Linked DNA regions of Homo sapiens: region 1 is linked to region 2. The links come from fine-mapping of genetic effects on gene expression. A gene starts in region 2. The other region holds a variant in brackets. All regions are shown on one strand. Distances are from middle to middle. Region 1 has its middle 8.0 kb from the start of ST3GAL6-AS1. Region 2 holds the start of ST3GAL6 (ST3 beta-galactoside alpha-2,3-sialyltransferase 6).

Evidence for each region. PIP is the estimated chance that this variant, and not a neighbour inherited with it, causes the effect.
Region 1: its variant is fine-mapped to the expression of ST3GAL6 in stomach (GTEx, PIP above 0.99).

Annotation. Positions count from the first base shown.
Region 1 is chr3:98,739,407-98,741,906 of GRCh38, forward strand. It overlaps a transcript of ST3GAL6 not described here. Among named protein-coding and RNA genes, the nearest start is that of ST3GAL6-AS1, 8.0 kb to the left of the region's middle. The variant C/G (reference allele first, on the strand shown) is at 1,261.
Region 2 is chr3:98,762,077-98,764,576 of GRCh38, forward strand. ST3GAL6 (ST3 beta-galactoside alpha-2,3-sialyltransferase 6) reads left to right here and starts at 1,264. Exons shown (of 10, transcript NM_001323368.2): 1 at 1,264-1,363.

The DNA of each region.
Region 1 (2,500 bases), 23 kb before region 2:
AAACCCATGCAAAATGCCATATAAACACAGACCTCTTGTCTTTGAGCTGATTCTATGAAATCACCTTTCCCATACCATTAGATTTTAGTCTTAAGAGGTATCAGCCTGTTGCTTCTGACCTCTTAGTGGGGTTTTCAGCTTAGGAAATATTCCATTACAAATATTTAGGCAGGAAACCTAGAAGGAAGTCTCAAATGCTTTTATTAAAATCTTATGCAACTTTAATATGTAAGAGTCCTTAATGTATTAAGGGGTGGAGGAAGCAGATATAGGGAATGTGTACATTTTCTATGGTTAGCATAGGGCCAAAGAATAAAAGGAGATTGTAGATTTTATTTTTTTAATTCTGTCTTTTTTGTGGATAACTCATTGCATTTAAAAACTGTAAGATGGGTTAAGCAGTTGCATTTAGATGAGAGCAGTGAGGTGATAGATAATCCAGGCATTCAAATAGGGTACAAATGAATTTTTCAACTACATTTTAGAACAGCAATTAAATGTAATTTATAATCTTATTTAATTGATAGGTTGTGGTAATTAAAGGAGCTTTCTGTTGTAAGTGATCTTGTGAGATAAAGGACATTGCTGTCAAAATATTTTTAATATTTAAAGCCAATATTTCAGGTAGATGTCGAAGTGATTTAGCTAATTATTATTCTTTTATCCCAGATATGCTACAATTAAATGATAAATAATTGGATTTTTTGATAAACGGGATGTAAGGAGATATGTGTGTTTTCTGATCACCAAGTAACTATAAATATTTTGCACACACTGAATTTTTTGGAGGGCAAATCTGGCTCTCTTATTGCAAAACACTTTTTTTTTTTTTTTTTTTTTTACAAATTTGATGTGTATGGTTCTTCTGCTTTAGTCATAGAATAAAAAATCATATTCTTACAAAAATCTTATATTCAAGCTCTCTATGACCATCAATGATTTTCATTATTTTTTTTCTGCTTAAAAATCCAGAGAATTTCTCTCACTGATTTTTGAGGTTTTCTGCCATCTTATGTTGCTAACTTTCTTTTTATTGTCCTGTTTGACGCTGTAGCCACGCAGGTCTCCTAGTGCTTCAGCTCAGGCTGTTCTTTGACACTCAGTGCCATTCTCCTTCTCCTCCACACTCTCCCATCTAAGCCAGATTATAACGTGTTCAGTTTCCAGCTTCATAACTTATCACTGCATGACTCCGAACAAATAGCCTAACTTCTCTGAGCCTTACTTTCCTTATCTATAAATTTGAAATAATATCCACAT[C/G]ACAGTAATTGTGATAATGAAAAAAACACATACAAATATTTGAGCATAGTTTCTGCCAAATATCAAATATTTAATCAGTGTTATCTGCCACTATTACTATTATAACTCTGTTTTTATAGCTATTATGACAATTCTATTCTTCCTCAATTAGTTAAAAATTGACTTTCCCCAGAAACCCTTTCTGATTGTTCTTATATACCTCTAATTTTTTCTCAGATCTGTTTCCTCTTAGCACCTGGCTTCCCTTTGGACTATGTTAATCTACCTATGTTATTATATTTCTTTCATCATTCTTCAGCGAACAGCAACAAATACTTTGCATCTATCATATGCCAAGTACTCTGCTATTATAAAGGGATCCATGGGCATATAGTAGAGGGATTCAGTGTGTGTGTGTGTGTGTGTGTGTGTGTGTGTGCATGCATGTATGTACATATGCTTTCAAGTGGAGTTAGGGAGAGAAAATCTGTAGGTTGAATAGAGCTATGAATTTTTCAGAATAAACTAGGCTTAAGGAGCAAAAACCGTTCTCTCCGAATGTTCTTGAAATCTGAGATTTTTTTTTTTTATGGTTCAAAACATAGAAACACTGTAGTTATCTCTGATCTTGAAACAGCTTTACATATGCTTTCTTGGACTCCTATGTCATCATCCAGATGCAGGGTAGAGATAGAAAGGGAAGTCCTCCTTGAAGAACAGAATCCTAACAGATTATTCCAATTTATATTGGGGAGTGGGAATGTTGTGGGAGGGGAATTGGGGGGCAGGGTGAGAGGAGAGGGAGAACATTCCGGGCAGCAGGAACAGTATGACCAAAGGCGCTGAGACATGAAACTGCCAAGAAGGATTGAGAAGTGCACAAAGTTTGGTGTTACTAGAGTCAAGCATTTCAGGAGATGAGTCAAGAGTCAAGCATTTCAGGAGATAAGGCAGGACAGGCCGTAGGAGCCAGCTGGATCAGACTTAGAGGCCTATGGCTTATATATTTATATCTCTCTATAAGGCACTTAGGGAGGTAGGTCTATATAAACAATTTATAACAGGTAAATTCTACATGTTGCTTCTAAATTTGGACTTGGGGCTTACAATATGGCATGTAATACATTCCTTCCAATTGCTGTTGTCACCAGAATATGATGAAAACATTAGTTAAGTTAATATATAATTGATATTTAGCACTCTCACTTTTAATAACTTGAGTGAAGGATAGAAATGTGAAGTGTCATTTGTGACTTTTGAG
Region 2 (2,500 bases):
AAGGACAGTGAAAGCACTGGTGAAAGCACTGGCTTTGTTGAAAAGCTGAAAGAGAAGGGTGTTTGTGCATATGCATGTCGGAACCAGCTTCATATCATTGTATTAGCAGAAGAGTTGGGGGAGGAGAGGGAAAGAAAGTTAATTATACGTGTTCCCTTTCTGCAATGCAGAAAGAAAATAGTTATATTCTTAGAAATCAGTCAAAATGTATACAGCTGATCTAATTTGTTGACACTACACAACTCAATATTTTTGGAGGGGGGCATAAATCAGATTTTCTGTTAATTTACTCAGCAATGTCAGAGTTTTTTTCTTAACTTGTATTAAATAGCATTAGTTTATAACTTCAGATTAAATTTAGCCTTTTCGTTGTAATATTGTATGTTTAAAAAATCTATATGTGCTGTTTTTTATTTCTTTAATTATGGTCTATTGAGAATTTCGTCATCCTTCTAGCAGAAAATCCCATCAACCAGACTACTGATTCCTTAGGATTTCTCTCTTTAATTATGAGATTAATAGCTTTTCATATTATAATGTTTCTAAAGAAGTGTGTTTGATAAATGCATAATTTAATGTGTATCATCCCCTTGTTTTATTTTTAAAAGATATTATTAAATGATTATTTAACAGTTCATACTCTTAAAAATATGGTTATTATAGTTTTCTATAAGCCACAATTTCAAAGTGTGGGCTTTGAAATCAGATCTCAGTTTGAATTCTGGCCAGTGCTCTGGGTATTAAACATATCTAGCATGGGGATGAAAATATCCGTGATTTCATCCTTATGTGAAAAAGGGCTTAGTACTGTGCTGGCCATTTAGTAAGTGGTTAATAAACTGTGCTATCATTTACATGATCATCGCTGCCAGAGGTTGTAGATCCTTGGGATATGAATGAAGCTGATCTCACGCATTTGGACTACCTAATTAGTAATAAGGACCAAACCTAAAAGAGAGGTAGTAAATGAATTGAGGAGGACTGAGGCCTTTCCATTCATCACTGTGGAGTCCTGTACATTAAGGCTCAGGTCATATGGAGATGGCTGGGTCTGTGAGGCTTAGGCTTAGGGGACCTATGAGGCTGGACCAAAAAAAATCTAGACATTAATGCATGGCTAGAGTTGGAGGTTCTGTTGTAGATTTGCTCATGTAGGCATGTGACTGCAGATTATAATCACAAATTGAGTAATAAGTACAAAGAGGAAGGAAGGCAGGATGTGAAATCTGTTGGCCATGTTCCACACAGTCTGGAGTGTATGTCAGTGTGAGCTGAAGACCAGCAGAGACTAGGATGGATGACGGCCTGTCCAGGGGCTGAATGGACACAGGTGTCAGCAGGGCCACCTGGTAAAGGTATGGAGGTGAGCCATGAACAAGGTTACCTGCTTAAGGGGAAGGTTGTGGCTTAAATCTAGATGCTGCTGAGATATTAGACATTAGGTGCCCACAGGCTGTGTGGAGGTAGAAGGGGGATGTGCTTCTCTTATTTGCACAAAGATGTGAGTTACTGAGGAGTATTATTGAACAGCAGCATGTTGGGTTTGAGAAGAGACCTAGTAGTAGAAAGAGTAGTATGTCTGCCACTGAGGAAGCAGGGAACAGAAGGGTGCCTCACCCCAGGGCAGATGGGGACATGGTTTAGGATCCTAGTGACTAAAAAAAAAAAAAAAAAAATGGAAGTTTGGCTGCAGAGCTGCTAGGGTGACTAGGAAAGAGAAGAATGCAGACGTTGGAAAAGTGTGGTATAGTTTAAGCACCCAGCAGCAGGAACCCAGGTCCAGTGGATGAGATGACCAGGATCACTACTGGATCCACAGGAACCTGACCCAACTGTTAAGCTGCTAGTCGAGGGCTCCTCAGACTCTCTTTCTGTGGGTCAGAATCAGTCCCAGTGCCTGGGGTGGCTGGGCTTGCAGATGGGCATTAGGAAGCACCTGCTTCCAGACTGAAACAGAACTGGGGATGGAGGAGACAGGGAGGTGAGGTTTGTGTGTGCTCAGCATCCGGAATAGAGAACGCCAAGGGTCTTTCTTCCTTGGTGTTGCATATTGACTGAGATACCCACCGGGTTTTTCTATTAGGTTGGTTTTAAATGACAAAAACCACAATTACTTTTGCACTAACCTAATGCTTGATAAGTAGAACAATGTTTCTAGAATTATTGCTGAACATGCTTTTTTCTAGCTGGTTGGAAAAGCAAGCTCCCTTTGGTTTGAGAAAGCATTAGGGGAGTCTAAAAAAAAACCTGACATTTTTTTCAAGTGTTTCTCCGTAGAGTTTGTTTTTATAAACAATGCTAGCATGGTTGGGAGGAGCAGAACTGGGAACAGGGTTGGGAGTAACAGGCTTTTATTTCAGCTGAGTTTGAATCAAAAGTATTATAAGCTTTACCTCCATTTCATCAATTACTAGAATTGATATTGCTTAAGGAGCTTGCAGGATTGCTTAAGTTGGAGAAATGTTCAGTAATGTTTAGTCTGGTAGCAAAAGGAGGGGCC